Regions from separate parts of the Homo sapiens genome. Here regions 2, 3 and 4 are each linked to region 1. Evidence: fine-mapped expression QTL. A gene starts in region 1. Each other region holds a variant in brackets. All regions are shown on one strand. Distances are from middle to middle. Region 1 holds the start of PTCD1 (pentatricopeptide repeat domain 1). Region 2 overlaps ZKSCAN5 (zinc finger with KRAB and SCAN domains 5). Region 3 holds the start of ATP5MF-PTCD1 (ATP5MF-PTCD1 readthrough). Region 4 overlaps CYP3A5 (cytochrome P450 family 3 subfamily A member 5).

Evidence for each region. PIP is the estimated chance that this variant, and not a neighbour inherited with it, causes the effect. A credible set is the group of variants that fine-mapping cannot tell apart.
Region 2: its variant is the best candidate, but not a certain one, in a credible set for the expression of PTCD1 in lung (GTEx, PIP 0.75).
Region 3: its variant is the best candidate, but not a certain one, in a credible set for the expression of PTCD1 in whole blood (TOPMed, PIP 0.61).
Region 4: its variant is the best candidate, but not a certain one, in a credible set for the expression of PTCD1 in pancreas (GTEx, PIP 0.69).

What each region holds. Positions count from the first base shown.
Region 1 is chr7:99,435,703-99,441,151 of GRCh38, reverse strand. It overlaps PTCD1 (pentatricopeptide repeat domain 1), which reads left to right and starts at 2,354. Exons shown (of 8, transcript NM_015545.4): 1 at 2,354-2,460. All of the region lies in intron 2 of ATP5MF-PTCD1 (ATP5MF-PTCD1 readthrough), which reads left to right. CPSF4 (cleavage and polyadenylation specific factor 4) reads right to left here and starts at 2,209. Exons shown (of 8, transcript NM_006693.4): 1 at 1,967-2,209. The coding sequence starts at 2,069. RefSeq lists a silencer at 1,915-2,214 and enhancers at 2,475-2,764, 4,061-4,586.
Region 2 is chr7:99,524,421-99,529,869 of GRCh38, reverse strand. It overlaps ZKSCAN5 (zinc finger with KRAB and SCAN domains 5), which reads right to left. Exons shown (of 7, transcript NM_145102.4): 6 at 3,452-4,057. Among named protein-coding and RNA genes, the nearest start is that of ZKSCAN5, 22 kb to the right of the region's middle. The variant T/C (reference allele first, on the strand shown) is at 2,615.
Region 3 is chr7:99,462,530-99,467,978 of GRCh38, reverse strand. ATP5MF-PTCD1 (ATP5MF-PTCD1 readthrough) reads left to right here and starts at 1,812. Exons shown (of 9, transcript NM_001198879.2): 1 at 1,812-1,850. The coding sequence starts at 1,838. It overlaps ATP5MF (ATP synthase membrane subunit f), which reads left to right and starts at 1,812. Exons shown (of 4, transcript NM_004889.5): 1 at 1,812-1,868. The coding sequence starts at 1,838. RefSeq lists enhancers at 1,624-1,743, 1,410-2,025, 2,026-2,643. The variant T/G (reference allele first, on the strand shown) is at 2,697.
Region 4 is chr7:99,666,973-99,672,421 of GRCh38, reverse strand. It overlaps CYP3A5 (cytochrome P450 family 3 subfamily A member 5), which reads left to right. Exons shown (of 13, transcript NM_000777.5): 5 at 5,357-5,449. It also overlaps a transcript of ZSCAN25 not described here. Among named protein-coding and RNA genes, the nearest start is that of CYP3A5, 10 kb to the left of the region's middle. The variant A/C (reference allele first, on the strand shown) is at 2,337.

The sequences.
Region 1 (5,449 bases):
TGGTGAAACCTCATCTCTACTAAAAATACAAAAATTAGTTGGGCGTGGTGGTGGGCGCCTATAATCCCAGCTACTCAGGAGGCCAAGGCAGCAGAACTGCTTGAACCTGGGAGGTGGAGGTTGCAGTGAGCCGAGATCGCACCATTGCACTCCAGCCTGGGTGACAAAAGCAAAACTCTGTCTCAAAAAAAAAAAAAAAAAAAAGACAGGAAAAGGCCACATGTGCAGGGATGATCACAAGAGTCGAGGGGTAGGTAAGAGGGGGTGTGTGTGTGTGAATTTGAGCAGCTGCTTTTTAGGGAGTGTACAGTGGTGATGGTGTTTGTGCCTGTGTCAAATAGGGTGGTCTGATGATGTCTCCTTATAAGCACTATCTTGTCTTCTTGAAGACTTAATTAATTTCCAATGAAACTATCTTGTACAGAACTATCACCATGTAAAGTTGTGGGACAGGCAGGAAAAAAAAAAAAAAAAAAATATATATATATATATATATGCCAGGTGCAGTGGCTCATGCCTATAATCCCAGTACTTCCGAAGGCCGAGGTAAAAGGATCACTTGAGCCCAGGAGTTCAAGACCAACCCTGGGAAACATGATGAAATAGTGTCTCTACCAAGAAATACACACAAAAAAATTTGCCAGGCGTGTTGGTGCATGCCTGTGGTCCCAGCTACTTGGGAGACTGAGGTGGGAGGATTGCTGGAGCCTGGGAAGTCGAGGCTGCATTGAGCCATGATTGCGTCACTGCACCCAGCCTGGGCGACAGAGGGGCCCCTGTCTCAAAAGCAAACAAACAACAACAACAAAAACACATAAAGGGACAGACTCAGAGGTCACATGTGCATGAGAAGGTGTGACCGCCTGAGGGGAGTGAGGCTGCTGGGAGCGGTGGGAGACCCCGCTGGTAGTTGTGGGCGACAGCACACAACACTGGAGAGCTTGCCCGCCTCTGCTATGCACTGAGTGATTGTCAGCAAGTCCCTTCCCCCGCTTGGGTCTCAGTTTCCCCATCTGTGGATTGAACTCAGTGACTTCCACAAGCCCCCAAACTTTAAGGTTATAGCATTAGATTTCAAGTATGTCCAGATAGGAAAGAAGACACAAAGAAAACTACTGGTTTCTTTTAAAGTACAAGATATCCCACCGAGTAGGAGGTGGGAAGCCAGGAGCCACCATATGAAGGGGAGCAGTGAAGGGAGTTCAGGCCAAGGGTCCACACCAGCTGCTGGGTGTGATGAATAACTCAGAGTTGGGGTCCAGAAAAAAGTAGGGACGGGCCAAAAACTAGGGATGAGCTCCCAGGAGAGTGAGTCCTAGAAGGGAGTTTGAGAGTCTAGCTGGGGTCTCCTACAGAAAGGTGGTCCTTCCCTCAGCACATCTCCTCCAACCGCCTAGTTTTGATGAAATCAAGAAGAGACGCTCAACGTAGCGGGTGTGATATCCTAGTACTCTCCTGCAGTTGGGAGAGTGTTGAGGGAGAGTTCCAATCCAGGATAACCCACCCTTATTCAAGAATTAAGCGAACAGACAAGGTCTACCCTCCTACAGATTACCTTTGAACAGCCGCAGAGGGCCAAAGATCCGAGGCAGTGAACTCCTGAGTCCGAGTGAGGGTAAAAGGAGTCCCCAGACGGTGGAAATGGGGGCCTGGGAGTCAGGAGTCCTGAAACCAAGGGGAGCGTCCCGGGATCCAGAAGAGGAGGTCTCAGGATGGAGTGGGAAGAGTCTCGGGACCACAGATGAGGGAGTTCGGTAACTAAAGGGGAGGATCCCAGGACCCGGAGGAGGTGGGAGGGACTCTCAAGACCTAGAGGGAGGAGTCCTGCGACCAAAGGGGAGGGGTCCCAGGATCCAGAGGAAGCCGGGGGAGGTCTCAGGACCGAGGCGAGGGAGTCCCGGGATCACAGAGGAGCGGGTCCCGGGTTCGAGTCGCTCTTGCCCTCCCGCCCGGGCCCCGCGCTCACTGTCCATGCCGGGGAAGGGCAGCGGCTGCGCCCCCAGCTGCTGCTCCACCGCGATCTCCAAGTCAAACTTGATGTGGTCCACGCTGGCGATGATTTCCTGCATGGCGGCGGCGGCGGCCCCACCGGCCCGGCTCCCCCTCGGTCTCCTGCAGCCTTCTCGCCTTTACCCGCCGCCGGCCCCGCCGCACACACTCCTCCTTCGCTTCGCCTCGCCGCCGCCGCCGCCGCCGCCCGAGGGATGCCGGGAGCGCCCGGAGCCCGCGCCGGCCCTTGCGCCTGTCCAGGCACTGCCAATCGAGACTCCGCCGTTCCGCTAGTCCCAGCTAGCCGCCAGCCGAACACCGGCCTCGCCAGAAACCTGAAACCAGCCGCGTGAGTCGGCGACGCGGATTGCGCCTGCGCGCTTGGGGAGAGGGGGACCCGAGGAAGAGACTGGTTCGCCGCGGGGACCGGGCAGGGCTCCCCGTCGGAGTGCACTGCGCCGGACACTTCAAGTGAGTTCCTGTGTGATCCTCGCAGGAGCCCCGGGACCCGGGCCAAGACACGCCAGAGGGGAAGGAAGTGCCCGAGCCGGGATTGGAGCCGGGGGCGTCTGAGGAGGGAAACTGAGGCTGCAGAAGTCCGTGTGGAGAGGGGTCGGCGTTGGCCTGAGGGTCCGGGTGGGCCTCTGAGGAGGGGCGGGTCTCTCCGAGGAAGGACGGCCGCAGCGTGTCTCTAATTCAGGGTTTTTTCTCGCTCTGTGGCCCAGGCTGGAGTACAGGGGTACGATCATAGCTCACTGCAGTCAACTTCTCAGACTCAAGCGATCCTCCCACCTCAGCCTCCCGAGTAGCTGGAACTACAGACGCTGCACCACCACACTTGGCTAATTTTTAAAATTTTATTTTTAATTTTTGTAGAGACGGCGGGGTTGGGGGGGCGGGTGGCGGGTCTTGCTATGTTGCCCAGGCTGGTCTCGAACTCCTGGCCCCAAGCCCAAAGCGATCCTCCTGCCTGGGCCTCCCAAAGTGCTGGAATTGCAGGCATGAGCCACTATACAGCCTAATTCAGGGTTTTTTTTAACCAGGGTGGGGTAATGAGCTTGTGTAGGAACAAAATGCACCCCTATTTTTCTCTATGTGAAGTATAGCATTTCCTTTCCTGATTGCTGGAGCAGCCTTAGCAGTGCCTGAAACTGTGAGGGTGAGTGTAAATGATAGTTCCAGATAACAGTTTGTGCAGGGCCAGGCATGGTGGCTCACACCTGTAACCTCAGCACTTTGGGAGTCTGAGGCGAGAGGATCACGTGAGGTCAGGAGTTCGAGACCAGCCTGGACAGGATGGCAAAACCCCGTCCCTACTGAAAATATAAAAATTGGCCTGGAGTAGTGGCGCGTTCCTGTAATCCCAGCTACTTGGGAGGCTGAGGCATGAGCATGGCTTAAACCCGGGAGGCAGAGGTTGCATTGAGCCGAGATTGTACCACCCCACTCCAGCCTGGTGACAGAGTGAGACGCAAAAAAACCCAGTTTGTGCAGCAACTACAAGGTGGTATCTTAAGCTGTCACTTACATTTATTACTGCTTTGAAATTATGATAGAGTCGGCCGGGCGCGGTGGCTCACGGCTGTAATCCCAGCACTTCGGGAGGCCGAGGCGGGCGGATCACAAGGTCAAAAGATCCAGACCATCCTGGCCAACATGGTGAAACCCTGTCTCTACTAAAAATACAAAAATTAGCTGGGCTTGGTGGCATGCGTCTGTAGTCCCAGCTCCAGGGGAGGCTGAGGCAGGAGAATCGCTTGAATCCGGGAGGCGGAAATTGCAGTGAGCCGAGGTCACGCCTGAGGACAGAGTGAGAGACTGTCTCAAAAAAAAAAAAAGAAAAGAAAAGAAATTATGATAGGGTCTTGTTATTTCATGCATTGAAAATAAGCATCTATACTAGTATAGCAGAAATTTGTTTTTAAAGCATTTTGATGCCATTTCAATATCATTGCTTTTTGTTTTGTAATTCTGTGTATTGTAATTAATGCACGTAAGGCAGGGCATGGAGGCTTACGCCTGCAATCCCAACACTTTGGGAGGCCAAGGCTGGAGGATTGCTTGAGGCCAGGAGTTCTAGACCAGCCTGGCAACATAGGGAGACTCCATCTCTACAAAAAAATACAAAAAATTAGACAGGTATGGTGGTGTGCACCAGTAGTGCTAGTTAATTGAGAGGCTGAGGTAGGAGGATCACTTGAGCCCAGGAGTTGGAGGTTGCAGTGATTGTGCATTTGCACTCCACTGTGCCATCGCACTCCAGCCTGGGCAACATGAAGACCCCATTCCACAAAAAAGAAAATTACATAAACACCATGCTTGTAAGAAGGAGTGGCAGGGCTTGCCAGATGCAGAATGATAAAGGCCCCCTGCACTAGTTTCACAAAAGGTGCTGGTCAGGACAATCATCAATGCGTTACATGGACCTGAGTTCAAAGCCAGCCCAGCCCAAGCTGGCCAGTCTCACCCACTGCACTGCTGCAGGACCCCAGCAAGTCTCTCCCCTTGCTGGGCCTAGTTTTTTGTTTGTTGTTGTTGTTGTTGTTTTGAGATGGAGTCTTGCTCTGTCGCTCAGGCTGGAGTGCAATGGCGCGATCTTGGCTCACTGCAACCTCTGCCTCCCACGTTCAAGTGATTCTCCTGCCTCAGCCTCCCAAGTAGCTGGGATTACAGGGGCACGCTGTCACGCCCAGCTAATTTTTATATTTTCGGCAGAGATAGGGTTCACCACGTCAGGCTGGTCTCGAACTCCTGACCTGAGGGGATCCACCCACCTTGGCCTCCCAAAGTGCTGGGATTACAGGCGTGAGCCACCGCTCCTGACCTACTGGGCCTAGTTTTTAATCTGTTCAATCTGCCATCACTTGTAAGACTTTTCCAATCGCAACCTTCTAATATAACCAGACTCTAAAATACTTTAGGCTGGGCATGGTGGCTCATTGCTGTAATCCCAGTGCTTTGGGAGGTCGAGGCGAGAGGATTGCTTGAGTCCAGGAGTTCAAGACCAGCCTGGGCACATAGCAAGACCCTGTCTCTACCAAAAAATAAAATTAGCCAGGCATAGTGGCTCACACCTGTAGTTCCAGCTACTCGGGAGGCTGAAATGGGAGGATCGCTTGAGCACAGGAGGGTGGGGCTGCAGTGAGCTATGTCTGACCTGAACCTAGGCTTTCTAACCTCTGGGCCCATACTTCTTATTTTATTTATTATTATTATTTTTTTTTTTTTCTGAGACAGAGTCTCACTGTCACTCAGGCTGGAGTGCAGTGGCGCGATCTCAGCTCACTGCAAGCTCCGTCTCCTGGGTTCAAGCGATTCTCCTACCTCAGTCTCCTCAGTAGCTGGGATTAGACGTGTAGCACCACACCCAGCTCATGTTTTTTGTATTTTTAGTAGAGATGGGGTGTCGCCAGGCTGGTCTTGAACTGATCTGCCCGCCTCGGCCTCCCAAAGTGCTGGG
Region 2 (5,449 bases), 89 kb before region 1:
ACAGCTACTCCAGAGGCTGAGGCAGAGAATTGCTTGAACCCAAGAGGCAGAGGTTGCAGTGAGCCAAGATTGCGCCACTGCACTCCAGCCTGGGCAACACAGCGAGACTCCATCTCAAAAAAAACAAAGAAGTCAAAAAACAATAGATGTTGGCATGGATGTGGTGAAAAGGGAACGCTTATACATTGCTGGTGAGAGATAAATTAATACAACTTCTGTGGATAACAGTATGGAGACTTCTTCAAGAACCAGAAGTAGATCTGCCATTTGATCCAGCAATTCCACAACTGGGTATATCTACACAAAGGAAAAGACAATATACCAAAAAGACTGTAAGCGCCTGTCTTCTGCAGCACAATTCACAACTGCAAAGATATGGAGCCAATCTAAGTGCCCGTTGAGCAATGAGTTGATAAAGAAAATGTAGCAGGCTGGGTGTGGTGACTCGTGCCTATAATCCCAGCACTTTGGGAGGCTGAGGCAGGTGGATCACCTGAGGTCAGGAGTTCAAGACCAGCCTGACCAACATGGTAAAACCTCATCTCTACTAAACATACAAAAATTAGCAAGGGATCGTGGTAGGTGCCTGTAGTCCCAGCTACTCGGGAGGCTGAGGCAGAAGAATCGCCTGAACCCAGGAGGCAGAAGCTGCAGTGAGTTGAGATCACATCACTGCACTCCAGCCTGGGTGACAGAGTGAGACTCCATCTCAAAAAAGAAAAACAAAAAACAAATACATAACTGGGTGGTGAGAACTGACAAAAACTGGAAGAATGAGAGTGAAGGATGATGAAGAGGGTATGCAGTCAGGGAATATCTGACTAGGAGTCAGGAAATAAGGCAAAATGAGCCAACAAGAAGCATTGTCAGAGGGTGGGTGATACAGCAATCCCTGCCCCCTTCACCCTTAGCCAACATTCTAGCCTCAGTTTTCCTCCCCCGGCATGTCATCCTTCTCCTTTGGGAATGCTCATCACCTTTACTATCTGCTACCCCCACCAGACCATCGGCTGCATGAGAGCATGGACTGTATCTCTGTTCTGGTCACTGCAGATCCTGTGCAACTAGCAACACAGACTCTCAATAATATGGCTGGATGTGCAAAACATGTATTCCCCCTTTGATCCAGAAAAATGAGGGAGGACCGGGCATGGTGGCTCACACCTGTAACTCCTAGCACTTGTGGAGGCCAAGGCTGGAGGATCGCTTAAGCCTAGAAGTTCAAGACCAGCCTGGGCAACAGAGCCAGACCCCTTCTCTACAAAAAATACATAAATTAGCTGGGTGTGGTGGTGAACACTTGTAGTCCCAGCTATGCAGGAAGCTGAGGTGGGAGGATTAGTTCAGCCCAGGAAGTGGAGGCTGCAGTGAGCTGAGATCCCGCTACTTTACCCTAGCCTGTGTGACAGAGCAAGACCCTATCTCAAAATACAAAAACGCCCCCGCCCCACAAAAAAAATGTGGAAGGCAAGTGAGTATTCACTGGGAAACTAGCCATAGAAACAATTGCAGGGAAGGTAGAAAACAAAAGATAACTATTTTAAAGCGATTGCTTTTTCAAGTCCAAAGCGCTATTGGTGGATTTTCCAAATGAGGGAATCATCGAGTAGAACGGGAAAACACTAGCTGAGAGGATAGCTCAGCTCAAACCCAGAACTTTAAAGACACTTTACTGACTTCTGTGCCATGGTGGAAGATGCAGCGTGGCTGTAAACATCAAAGGCAGAATTAAAAAAAAAAAAAAAAAAAAGAAAAACATTTTGGCTGGTCTTAGAATCATCTGAAGAATATTAGTAAGGGCCTTTAAGTTCACAGCACAGTTTATGACGATCTCATTCACAGATAAATTTACTGTCATTTGAACAGATGTTTAAAAATACTGGCCCGGCATGGTAGCTCACACCTATAATCCCAGCACTTTGGGAGGCCAAGGCGGGTGGATCACTTGAGGTCAGGAGTTCGAGACCATCCTGGCCAATATAGTGAAACCCCATCTCTACTAAAAATACAAAAAAAAATTAGCCAGGTATGGTGGCAAATGCCTGTAATCTCAGCTACTCAGGAGGCTGAGGCACGAGAATCGCTTGAACCTGGGAGGCAGAGGTTGCAGTGAGCTGAGATCGTGCCATTGCACTCCAGCCTGGGCAACAAGAGTGAAACTCCGTCTCAAAAAAAGAAAAGAAAAGAAAAAAAGAAAAAGTCACAGGCATAAACAGTTATCGGGACAAAAGAGAAAAAAATTGAAGTTCAACAACTGGGAACACTTGAGTAAATTACAATGCCACCACACAATGGCAGACTGTCAGAAATAAAAAGGAGGGCTGAACAGCCCTGGAAAATGTGTACGCTTAATATTTAATTCTGAGTACGACTACGTGAAACAGACTTATAAAAAAAAAAGGAAACATACTAAGTAATAACAGTTCTATTAGTTAGGGTGATGTGATTATGGGTGATTTATTTTTTCTTTTTATTTTCTCCAAGCTTCCTGTACTACTGTTATTTTATTGGGTTTGTGTTTGTTTGTTATTTGAGAAGTCTCACTCTGTTAGCCAGTCTGGAGTGCAGTGGCTATTCACAGACACATTTATAGCTCACTGTAGTCTTGAACTTC[T/C]GGGCTAAGAGATCCTCCCACCTCAGCCTTCCGAGGAGCTGCAACTACAGGCACATGCCACCATGCCCAGGTAATTTTTAAATTTTTTTGTAGAGACAAGGTCTTGCTATGTTGCCCAGGGTGGTCTTGAATGCCTGGCCTCAAGTAATCCTCCTAGCTCAGCCGCCTCCCAAAGCACTGAGATTACAGGTGTGAGCCACTGTACCCAGGCTATTGTTTTAAAATAAGTAAAATAACTAAATTGGGAAAAGGGGAAAGAGAGAAAAGCATATAAGAGAGCCAAATCCTCATTTACTACCATAGAAAGTCAACAGATAACATTTAAAATTGATGAGCCAACTAATAATAGTTTTATTTTAAAATACAGAATTACCAGAAGGAACCACTAACAGCTGAGAGCACAGCCAGCACAGTGGCTCATGCCTGTAATCCCAGCACTTTGGGAGGCCAAGGCAGGCAGATCGCCTGAGGTCAGGAGTTCAAAACCAGCCTAGCCAACATGGGGAAACCCTGTGTCTACTAAAAACACAAAAATTACCCGGGCATGCTGGTGCGCGCCTGTTGTCCCAGCTACTTGGGAGGCTGAGGCAGGAGAATCGCTTGAACCGGGGAGGCAGAAGTTGCAGTGAGCTGAGATCTCGCCACTGCACTCCAGCCTGGGCGACAGAGCGAGACTGTCTCAAAAAATAAATACATAAGAACCAAATAAACGATAACCTTTGCCTCTTCCTACCCCCCCCAGTATCACCACCCATCTGTCCTGTTGTACCGTACTAATAAAACACCTTTTGCTTTTCGCCTCCATTTATCCCCCGGATATAAACTCCTCACACGTACATCTCTGGGATTTCTCCCTGAAGTGGCGTTTTAGGTGTTCGATCAGATGCGAATGGCGACCGAAGTTCTTCCCACACTCATTGCAGCCATAGGGCCTCTCTCCGCTGTGGACACTGTGGTGCTGAACCAGGTGGGAACTCACCCGGAAAGCCTTTCCGCACACCTGACATTTGTAGGGTTTCTCCCCTGTGTGGACGCGCTGGTGCTGGGTGAGGTGCACCCGCTGATTGTAGCTCTTCCCACATTCTCCGCACTTAAACGGTTTTTCTCCAGTGTGGATGCGCCGATGCTGAATAAAGTTTGAGGCTTGGAGGAAGAATTTGCCACAATCGCTGCATCTGTGCCCTCTCTCGCCATGTGTGCTTTGCTTAGGGCTGATGTCTGTGATTGCATCCAGATCCCTTTTCTGGGAAGGATTCTGCCTTGATTTCCCCACAGTGGGGTTGACCTGCCACCTTTGTACCATGCCTTTAAGGTCACTGACTTCTGCAAAGTCTGGATCCTGAGGAACGCTCCTTTCGGTGTGTTCTGGCGCCACCCAGTGTGATTCAGAGTCATCAGAAATCTGCTTCACTATGAGCTCCATATTGTCCCTGGACTCATAACCTGAAATAACAGAGGGAGAATTAAAAAATGAGCTTTTCCTTGAATTTGAAGAAATAAAATGAGGGGATAATGAAGAGAAACTGACATGTGCTAGGGATCCATGATTCTGTAAAGGGACTTTTACAGTACAGGGATGGGATGAAAAATATTCAAGCAGAAAAGTGAGGGAGGTTAGGGAAGGAAGAGCTGGCAAAAAATGTTCAGAGGAAGGAGACTGAAAATCAGTCATTCCACTGAACGAAGAGGGTCTCCTCTCAGTGTGGCACTTACAAATACCTGTATCATGTTAAATGTTCTCTTGTGTGTGTGTGTGTGCGCGCGCGCGTGTATGTGTGTGTTTTGAGACAGGGTCTCACTCTGTCACCCAGGCTGGAGTGCAGTGGGGCAATCATGGCTCACTGCATCCTCAACCTCTTGGGCTCAAGCGATCCTCCCACCTCAGCCTCCCAAGTAGCTAGGACTACAGTTGCACACCACCATGCTCAGCTAATTTTTATATTTTTGTAGAGATGAGGGTCTCATTATGTTGCCCATGCTGGTTTCAAACTCCTGAGCTCAAGTGATCCTCCCACCTCAGCTTCCCAAAGTGCTGGGATTACAGACGTGAGCCAACGCGACTGGGCAATATTCTTTTTTTTTTTTCTTTTGAGACGGAGTCTCACTCTGCCACCCAGGCTGGAGTGCAGTGGCGCGATCTCGGCTGACTGCAACCTCTGCCTCCCGGGTTCAAGTGATTCTTCTGCCTCAGCCTCCCAAGTCACTGGGACTACAGGCGCACATCACCACGCCCAGCTAATTTTTGTAATTTTAGCAGAGACAGGGTGTCACCATATTGGCCAGGTGGTCTCGAACTCCTGACCTAGTGATCTGCCCGCCTCGGCCTCCCAAAGTGCTGGGATTACAGACATGAGCCACCGCGCCCAGTCACGACTGGGCAATATTCTTAATAAAACTGGATAGCAGGTTATGCAGCTAACCCCATCTTCACCTTCCTCTTCCTGTGAATTCATAGCCTAGAAAAGAAAGGTGATCTTTCTAGGTTTCTCAATGCCCAAAGGATTTCAGTTTGGTATGAATTAATCTAAAAGAAAAAAGACATTCTTTCTATATCCTGAGAAGAACCTACTACTTTCAAGAGCTAGGTTAATGTTCAGCAGTCACTGATAGAACCGTGGATGTTTCAGTGGCTATAATTAGTTCCTTTGTTCAACTGTATCAGCAAGATACTTTACTCAAAACACTGATGTTTTAATATGGTTTGCAGAGACAAATCTTCAGTAGTTAACAAAAAATAGAGTATTGGCCAGGCACAGTGGCTCATGCCTGTAATCCCAGCACTTTGGGAAGCCAAGGCGGGCGGTTCACTTGAGGCCAGGAGTTCGAGACCAGCCT
Region 3 (5,449 bases), 27 kb before region 1:
CTCCTGATCTCAGGTGATCCGCGCACCTTGGCCTCCCAAAGTGCTGGGATTACAGGCGTGAACCACCGCGACCAGCCTGGTTTTTTTTTGTTTGTTTGTTTTTTGTTTTTTTTGAGACAGAGTCTTGCTCTGCCGCCCAGGCTGGAGTGCAGTGGCTTGACCTCCGCTCGCTGCAACCTCCACTTCCCAGGTTCAAGTGATTCTCCTGCCTCAGCCTCCCAAGTAGCTGGAATTGCAGGCACCTGCCACCGCGCTCAGCTAATTTTTTTCGTATTTTCACCATGTTGGCCCGGCTGGTTTTGAACACCTGACCTCAAGTGATCCGCCCACCTCTGCCTCCCAAAGTGCTAGGATTACAGGCGTGAACCACCGCACCTGGCCTGTTTGTTTTGTTTTGTTTTTTTAACCATTTTTAATTCCCACTGGCGATGCTGGCCGTGCTTTCACACACCTATAATTGTATATGCGATTTTCACTGCCTGGGGAGAAGGGAAGCAGACATGGAGGAGCCCCACAATGCCACCTCTGAAACAAGAAATGTAGCAGAATGAACTGAACGAGGGTGGCATTTATTTGGCAAGTTATGACTACAAGACCTGCTCTCGAGGTTGTTTTAAAAATCGGAGGCCCGGCGCGGTGGCTCACGCCTGTAATCCTAGAACTTTGGGAGGCCGAAGCGGGTGGATCACGAGGTCAGGAGATTGAGACCATCCTGGCTAACATGTTGAAACCCCGTCTCTACTAAAAATACAAAAAAATACAAAAAATTAGCCAGGCGTGGTGGTGGGCGCCTGTAGTCCCAGCTACTCGGGAGGCTGAGGCAGGAGAATGGAGTGAACCCCGGAGGTGGAGCTGGCAGTGAGCCGAGATCGCGCCACTGCACTCTAGCCTGGGTGACAGAGCGAGACTCTGTCTCTAAATAAATAAATAAATTAATTAAAATAATCAAAATTGAAGTAGCCCGGGCAGTGTGGTTCATGCCGGCAGTTCCAGTATTTTGGGAGGCCGAGGTAGGAGGAACGCTCGAGGCCAAGAGTTTAAGAGCAGTCTAGGCAACATAGGGAGACGCCTTCTCTACAAAATATAATTAGCTGGGCGTGGTGGCGTGCACCTGTAGTCCCAGCTACTTCGGAGGTGGAGGAAGAACGCTTGAGGCCAGGAGTTCAAGACCAGCCTGAGCAAAATAGAGAGCCTCTACCCCCACTCCTCACCACACTGTTTCCACCAAAAAAAAAAAAAAAAAAAAAAAAAAAAAAAAAAAGCTGGAAGTGGTGATGTGAGCCTGTAGTCCTAGCTACTTGGGAGGCTGAGATGGGTGGATCGCTTGACTCCGGGAGTTCAAGGCTGCAGTCAGCCGTGATCAAGCCACTGTCTGAAAAGTAAATGCTCGTCTGAAAAGTAAAAAATAAAAATAAAAATAGACTGGGCGCGGTGGCTCACGCCGGTAACCCCAGAACTTTGGGAGGCCGAGGCGGGGGGATCACGTGAGGAAAGGAGTTCAAGGCCAGCCTGGCCAACATGGTGAAACCCTGTCTCTACTAAAAATACAAAAATTAGCTTGCTGTGCTGGTGCACGCTTGTAGTCCCAGCGCGGCCTCTTCCCACCTTTTAAGGTAGAGAGCCCAGGCTGAGGCGCCCCTCTCTCTAACTGCAGGACCCTCGGATTTTTGCTGTCCAGGCACCTCGCCCTTCGCTTCATGGCCTTCTAGTAGTTCCAGGGTGTTCGCAGTTGTGACCTGCTTCCCGTGAGCCTCTGCTCTACGCCCCTGGATGGGGCGTGCATTCCCTACCCAGCAGCCCTCGCGCGGTCCGGCACAGCGGACACCAGGACTCCAAAATGGCGTCAGTTGGTGAGTGTCCGGCCCCAGGTAAGGCTGTTTGGACTCCGTGGTGGAAGCAGGAGCCAGGGTCCAGGGTCCAGAGCCACACTGGGAGAGAAGGAAGCTGCGGAGCTGCCTGCCCTTTGCTCAGGCACTTCGCCACGACCTCACTTGAGGCGCGCCAGACCCCGCTCCGCCTGCCCAGGCGCGCCTTCCTGCTGCCCAGGGCCTGCGCCAACCGGGTTAGGCGTGGAGGGTGAAGGCATCTGGGGCACGCGCTTCTGGGCCTGGGAATGCGCCGCCTTGGGCCACTGTTCCTCTTTCCGCTAAGAAATAGCCGCTTCCCTCTCCCGCTGCGACCCAGTTGCTTTGCACTTGAATGTTAGGCGCAGCTTTTGCCCTTTTTTCCCAAGGCTTAAGCTCAGATGAAGCTCCAGGAGGAGCTCAGGACTAGGACTGTACCTGATACCATGTAAGGTTCGATGCATATATGTTGAATCAGAGAGGCGAGGTGACCTGTTCAAGGTCACAACTCGTGCGAGGGCTGAGCTGGTATTCAAACCTGAGGATTCGTGGTAAATGAACTTTATTCTCTAGGACGGCCTTATGACTAGCAGGCTTTTCCGAGACACCCATGTGTAAATCGCTACATTCATCCCGCTGTGCACACTGATGATTTTTGTTTGTTTGTTTTTGAATAGTTAGCCCTAGATGCTCCATAGTAGCCTTGTCAGAGAGTCCTTGTTGGGAAAGTCGATTCCATTTTACAGATGAGGGAAATAACTGTTCGGGATGTGGTGTGGCCTCTCTGAGGTCACACAGCCTGATAGTGGCAGAGTTTTGATTAACACATGTGTGTCTTAGCTCAGTTTCTGG[T/G]TTTTTTTTATCATTTTTTTTTTGAGATGGCGTTTCGCTCTTGTCGCCCAGGGTGGAGTGCAATGGTGTGATCTCGGCTCACTGTAACCTTTGCCTCCTGGGTTCAAGCGATTCTCCAGCCTCAGCCTCCGAGTAGCTGGGATTACAGGCGCAGGCCACCATGCCCAGCTAATTTTTGTATTTTTAGTAGAGACGGGCTTTCACCACGTTGGCCAGGCTAGTCTTGAACCCCTGACCTCAGGTGATCCATGTACCTCGGCCTCCCAAAGTGCTGGGACTACAGGTGTGAGCCACTGCGTTTCTGTATTCTTTTTTTTTGACATGGAGTCTCACGCTGTCGCCCAGGCTAGAGTGCAGTAGCTGATCTCGTCTCTGCAACCTCTGCCTCCCAGGTTCAAATGATTCTGCTGCCTCAGCCTCCCAAGTATCTGGGATTACAGGCACACACCAGTACCTACGCCCGGCTAATTTTTTTTTGTATTTTTAGTAGAGATGGGTTTCGCCACGTTGACCAGGCTGGTCTCAAACTCTTGACCTCAAGTGAGTCACCTGCTTCGACCTCCCAAAGTGTTGAGATTACCAGCGTGAGCCACTGCGCCTGACCTCTGGTTTGTTTTTTTGAGATGGAGTCTCGCTCTGTCGCCCAGGCTGGAGTGCAGTGGCGCGATCTCAGCTCACTGCAAGCTCTGCCTCCCGGGTTCACGCCATTCTCCTGCCTCAGCCTCCTGAGTAGCTGGGACTACAGGCGCCCGCCACCCCGCCCAGCTAATTTTTTGTATTTTTAGTAGAGACAGGGTTTCACTGTGTTAGCCAGGATGGTCTCGATCTCCTGACCTTGTGATCTGCCCACCTCAGCCTCCCAAAGTGCTGGGATTACAGGTGTGAGCCACTGCGCCCGGCCTCCGGCCTCTGTATTCTTAATCTCAGCCTAGAGAAATGAAGAGGGGTTCAGAATAGATGAGAGGGAAGCTGTTTTCCCCTCAGTAAAATGGGCATAATAGCATTCGTCGTACACGGTAGTTGTGTTAAGGAGACAACCTGTGAAAAGTGAACACTGGGGCATTTTGTTTAAGCATAGGGCTGTGGTCAAGAGCTCTGAACTAAGGATCAATCGATTTAGCATGTGAAAGACACTTGGAACGCTGCGTGGCCCACAGTGAGTACTCAGTCGGTGTGAGCTGGTCATCCCAGCCTTTACTTTGTGACCTTTAGGCAGGGTCATGTCACATGCCTGGCCTATTCAGCATCACCCCCGGTGAAGAAATTGGAGTCCATGTCTCTTAGGTATTGATGATCTTTTAGGTAGTGTCTGTCACCAGAGGACAAAGACAGTATTTCATGAGCACATAAAGTGAGGGAAATATGAATTAGCAGCAGTAGATAAGATCGCGGTTGGCAAACTATGGCCAGTGAGTTGGATTTCGTGTGGCCTGTTTTTGTCTGGCCATGAGCTCAGAATGGTTTTTTTGTTTTTATATTTTATTTTTATTTATTTATTTATTTTTTGAGATGGAGTCTTGCTTTTGTCGCCCAGGCTGCAGTGCAATAGCACGATCTCAGCTCAGTGCAACCTCCACCTCCCAGGTTCAAGTGATTCTCCTGCCTCAGCCTCCCAAGTAGCTGGAATTGCAGGTGCCCGCCACCACACCCGGCTAATTTTTGTATTTTTAGTAGAGATGGGGTTTCGCCATTTTGGTCAGGCTGGTCTCAGACTCCTGAGCTCGTGATCCTCCTGCCTTGGCCTCCCAGAGTGCTGGGATTACAGACGTGAGCCACTGTACAGGGCCTAGAATGGTTTTTTGTTTTTATTTTATTTATTATAGAGATGGGGTCTCAAACTCCTGGCCTCAAGCAGTCCTCCCATCTCGGCCAAAGTGTTGGGATTACTGGCGTGAGCCACTGCATTGGGTCATTTTCTGTTTTTAAAAAGATTGTTTAAAAATAAAATAGACTATGCTATGAAGACCTTATGTGGCCTGCAAATCCAAAAATCTTTATTCTCTGGACAACCCCCAGGTTGGATTTAGCACTCAGGAGAGACTTGCTATTTCCATGTGGCTTCATAGTAATGAACAGTATGTTTCCTCTCGAGGATCTGTGGTTCTACAACCATTACTGAGAATCTGTCGTGTACCAAGAAGTGGTGGGGATATTCGCACCTTCAGGTAGCTCATAACCAGGCAGAAAGGTGGTAATAGTTCTCATTTACATAGTACCTAGGGCCAAGTACCAAGGATTTCACAAAGGAGGAAACTGAGAAGGAGTAGTACCTTGCCCAAGGGCACACACCTACAAAATGGCATTAAACCCAGAATGGCACTAGACCCAAGGGTCTGCTCTGTCTCTGAACTCTACTGGGTCTCTTTATGTGACCCAGTGATTGCAGATGGAAGCTTCAGTGCTGCAGAGGAGCGGGTGTGTGTAGAGTTGGGGTGGGAGTTCCAATAGGGCAACCAAGGACTGAGGCCTTCCTTTGCCTTCCAGTGAAAGAGAAATTCGTGGAATAAGTATAGATGCATCTTGGATGAACTGGATAGTCCCTTGCAGTGGCACGATCTTGGCTCACTGCAACCTCTACCTCCCAGGTTTAAGCGATTCTCCTGTCTCAGCCTCCCGAGTAGCGGGGACTACAGGCACACGCCACCATGCCCAGCTAATTTTTGTATTTTTAGTAGAGATGAGGTTTCACTATGTTGGCCAGGCTGGTCTTGAACTCCTGACCTCGTGATCTGCCTGCCTTGGCCTCCCACAGT
Region 4 (5,449 bases), 230 kb before region 1:
TTGTATATTGCAATATATATCTAGTATATTCATATTATCAGGTTGGCACAAAAGTTAAAATGGCAAACTACAGGCTGGGCATAATGGCTCATGCCTGTAATCCCAGCACTTTGGGAGGCCGAGGCAGGTGGATCACGAGGTCAGGAGTTCGAGATCAGCCTGACCAACATGGTGAAACCCCATCTCTACTAAAAATACAAAAATTAGCTGCGTGTGGTGGCATGCGCCTGTAGTCCCAGCTACTCAGTAGTCTGAGACAGGAGAATCGCTTGAACCTGGGAGGCGGAGGTTGCAGTGAGCCGAGATCACGCCATTATACTCCAGTCTGGGCAACCCAATGAGACTCCATCTCAAACAACAACAACAACAACAACAACAAAAACCGGCAAACTGCAATAACTTTTGCACCAACCTAATACTATAGTACAGGAAATTGACTTTGATATAGTTTACAGAGCTTTTCAGATTTCACCAGTTTTACATGCCCTTGTTTGTGTGTGTTTATGTGTGTGGGTAGTTCTAAGCAATTTTTCACATTCGTAGATTTGTGCAACGACCAGCACCATCAAGATGCAGACCCATTCCGTCACCATGTGGCTCCCTCCTGCTGTCCTACAGTCACAACATGGAGTTTGTCTTTTTCTCTGACAGGTTCTATATCAGAGCAAACTTTTATTTATTTGAGGAGGCCAATGTATTAATATTTCCTTTTATGGATTGTTCTTTTGGTGTTAAGTCTGAAAATCCTTTGCTTAGCCCTCCTTCCTACATTGCTTTTTCTAAGAGTTATATAGTTTAACACTTTACAAAATGTAACTCTATTACCCATTTTGTGTTAATATTTGCATAAGTTATGAGATTTAGATCAAGGTTCATTTTCTGTGGACTATGGCTGTCCAAATGTTCCAACACCATTTTGGAAAGGTAGGCATATTGTCAAAACTCAGCTGAGTATATTTTGTGAATCTATTTCTTATTGTTTACTCCTCCACTAATACCACACTGTGGTGACTCTAGTAGCTGTACAGTAACTCTTAACATCATATAGGGCAATTCTTTCCACTTTATTGATTTATATTTTCAGAATGGCTTTAGCTTTTCTTGTCCCTTGCCTTTCCATAAAAATTCAGAATAAGCTTGTAAGTGTCTACAAACAAACCTGCCATAATTTTGATAAGAATTAAAGCAGAGGTGTCCAATCTTTTGGCTTCCCTGGGCCACAGTGGAAGAAGAAGTGTCGTGGGCCACACATAAAATACACACACACACACACACACACACACACACACACACACACACACACAAATGGTCTGTGTATAGTTTTCATTATATATCTACCACCACAGATAAGCAAAAATGTCCTTGCATAATAATCCTAATTATGCACTGCCCCATTCAGAGGGTCTTTCAAAATCATTGAACAGGTTCCAAGTTTGCAATCACTGATACAGAAAATGTACATATCTAGCTAAACTTCACTACTTTTTTGATATTTTTTATTATAAAAGAAAAGAGAACAACATAAAACTAGTGGGGTACTTGACATTGTTTTTGAGAAACTAATCCATCAGTATCTGGCTTGATGGAAGTAGTTGCAATTCTCAGTGAGTTCTCAAGGTGCTCATCAGATATTTTGGTTCTAATTTTACTCTTCGTGTTCTTCATCCTTGAAAATAGTAGCTCACAAATGTAAGTGCTGCCAAAAAGCAATGACATGAACAAGGTGTGATTGTGAAGCAAGGGATATTTGTCATTGGGAAGACAGGTCTTACAAAAGTCCAGTAAAGAGGCAAAATCAAATTTTTCTATAAGTTGAACATCAGATTGCAGCTCTAGGCATTCCATTTCAAAATTGCCAGGTAACATATATATGTCGACTGAAAATGGAGTTGCAAATATACCAAAATATTGATGATTTTTTCAGAAATCTTGAAATACCTGTTTTCAAATTCCTGTATCAAATTGAAAAGCAAGGCTGCGTATTTTTGGCTGTTCACAGGACCATGTTTAGCCAACATGTCGAAATGCATAAAATTGTTTGCCTTAATTTGAGCTTGCCATAATTTCAGTTTCATATGGAATGCTGTTATGGTTTGAAACATTGTATTGTTAAGTTGGTTTTCAACTTGAAGACACAGGTTTAACTCACTTAAATGGGCCGTCAAACCCACTAAAAATGCTAAATCTGTAAGCCAGTTTTCATTGTCAAGTTCTGGCACCAATTTTGTTTGATACCATAAACAGCTTGATTTCACATCACAAAGCATAAAATCTTTACATTTTGCCTTGACTTAACCATCTTACTTCTAAAAAGTGAATGACTTGCTAGAGTCAGC[A/C]TCCATACTTTTAAGGAATTCCTGAAACTAGCGATGATTCAATTCCTGGGCCCTTGTGAAATTTACAGCCTTGATGACAATTTGCATGACGTTATCTACTTTTAAAGCTTGTGCACATGGATTTTCTTGATGTATTATGCAATAATACTTCATCAAATGTGAGTTTTGTGTGGCAACTGCATCATCTATTAATTGTACAAGTCCCTCTCTTTTACCTACCATCGCCAGGGCAGCATCTGTAGCTATATCACATATGTTTACAAAGGACAAAGAAAATTGCTTTAACATATTTTTCACTGCTTCATATAAATCTCTTGATTTAGTTGTGTCTTTTAATAGCATGGTGACATTTCGATTTCTTCAGTGACATTATATTCATCATCAATACCTCTAATAAAAATAGCAAGTTGTGCCGTATCTGTAGTGTCAGTGCCTTCATCCATCACCAAAGCATAAAATTTTAAATTAGCAGTTTTACTCTCCAAACGTCTTTCAATAGATTTCCCAATTTCTCCAATTCTCCTGGCTATAGTCTGGTGAGACAAACTGATTTTAGAAATATCAGTTTCTCAAGGCAAATAATATCTACCACATCTTCCAGACATTGCTTAATAAACTCACCATCAGTAAATGGTTTTGATTTTTTTGCTATTAAATTTGCTACCACATAACTAGGTTTTACCTTACGATTGAGTCCGAGTTGTAACTTTTTAAAAAATCTTTTTTGTTGAAAAGACAGACTTTTTTTCAGTTCTGCTATTTTGTCCTTACAACACATACACACCAAATTTGTCAGCACGTTTTTGCATATAATGCCTCTTCAAATTGTAGTCTTTGAAAACTGGCACAAATTCCGTGGAAATTAAGCAGAGTGCTTCGCTATTTGCCTCAACAAGAAAAAGTCATTTGTCCACTTTTCATTGAACAATCTTCCTTCATCCATAATTTTTGTTTTTTAGGGTTTTCTTTTTAAGACATTGTGGAAGCCATTCTGGAATTAAAAGCATTATAATAGATAAGCAACTATATTTACTTTTATTATGGAAATTAACAGATAGGAAAATAGAACAGAAAGCAAGGTTTAATAATCAAATAAGAATACTTACATGTCTTCTAAATAATATTAAACACCTATCATCTACAAAGGTAGGTTGAAATATTATTGATAATTGCTGGGTTTTACTTGCCAAATTGCCACAAACACACCTAATACCTGACAGTGTCAATTCAACTGTCCGTGATTAGAAGATAACACACTGGAAGTCGCACACCACCATAAAACTGAAGCCACACATGCGTACAAATGGCGACAGTGTCTGGTGTACAGCAGCGCTCTGCCTTGTCCAGAATACACACTTGAATTCTTTGTCACAATTCACTTCACGTGGCACTGCAATAGCGTCCTCTCGCTCTTTGTTAGTTAATTTTAATGGCTTTTAATTTCTTCTTGCTGAACTGTTTGCAATTATAATGCAAATTATGGATACTAGTCCATTATTTGTGGATGTGACATACTCTGATTACCCCTTTCCATTCCATTGTTGTCTACGAAGTTCACACTTGAGAATCACATAGTCAAATTACAAAATTACAAAAAAAATTGCAAAAAAACTCAAAATGTTTTAAGAAAGTTTCCACATTTGTATTGGGATACATTCAAAGCCATCCTGGACTGCATGAGGCCTGCAGGCCACAAGTTGGACAAGCTTGAATTAAACCAATAGAACAATTTGGGTATAATCTATATCTTTACTATGTTCAGCCTTTCATCCCGTGAATATAGTATGCCTCTCCATTTCTTTAGCTTTTATTACTTTCCTCAACATTTTATAGTTTTCAGCATAGAGGTCCTGTACATCTTTTGTTAGATTTACACCAGAAATATTTCATTTTTGTTGGAGTAACTGTAAATGATACTGTTTTTCTTGTATTTTCAGATATTGATTATTGTTACATAGAAATGTGAATAATTTTGTTTGTTGATCTTGTATCCTATAGCCTTGCAGAACTTACCTATTCGTTCTAGAAATTTTTTTGTATATTCCTTGACATTTTATACATTGACAATTATGTCACCTGAAAATAGAGACAATTCTATTATTTCCTTTCCAATCTGTATGCCTTTTATTTCTTTTTCTTGTCTAGTGTATTAAGACATCAGGTATGCTCTTTAGTAAGAATGTTGAGAGTGGGCATTTTTTAGTTCTTCTTGATCTTGGAAAAACCATTCAGTCCTTCATCATTAAATGTGATTTAACTGAATGATTTTTTTACAGATTGTCTTTATCAAATGAAGGAACTGTCTCTCTCTTCCTAGTTTATTGAGATTTTATCATGACAGCTGGAAGTACACATTTTAAAACAAAACATAGTTGTGGAAGATAAGAGAAAGTTCCAAGCATGCTGGCTTGATAGTCCAGCCCCAAGTTGGGAAAAGTAATTATCCCTTTCTTTTTCCTTCTATTTATGGAATAAAAAATTAAGAGAAAAGAATTTTCAAGGAAATTGCATTATTCCTTCAAAACAGGTTTCTAGTCTTTAAGTATTACCTACTTTTCAAAAAAAAATCACCACATCATGGCATCCCTTTTTCAAGTTGCCCATGCTGTAGGTGTATTAAAGACAGAGCTGGTCTGAGGCAACATACAGTCTGCCCATCTGTCACCAATCCTTTTCTACTCTGCACACTCCTGGGGAAGGGCTAGGTCTTGTTCCTGTCTATTCCACTGGAAGAACAGTTCCCTACCACGTGGAGCATTTGCAATTAAAAGGAGACTGAGATATAGAGGCAGGAGACCACACCAGATGGCTGGGTCTCCCCACTCCCACCCCCGCCCCACATACACTCAGAAGAGGCTAGGCATCTAGGATCTCCATTGAGCATCTTGAATATGGCTTGCCATAATATCATATACAGTCAATAAATATTTGTTAAATAAGGATGCCTCTTCAATATATTTTGTGCAACCATGAAGATCACCACAACTAATGTGAGAAAAAATGTTTCTGTTGAACTCTAGTCTTTAGGCCCAGTGGGATTTATGAAAAGTGCCATCTCTTTAGCTGAGGATGAAGAATGGAAGAGAATACGGTCATTGCTGTCTCCAACCTTC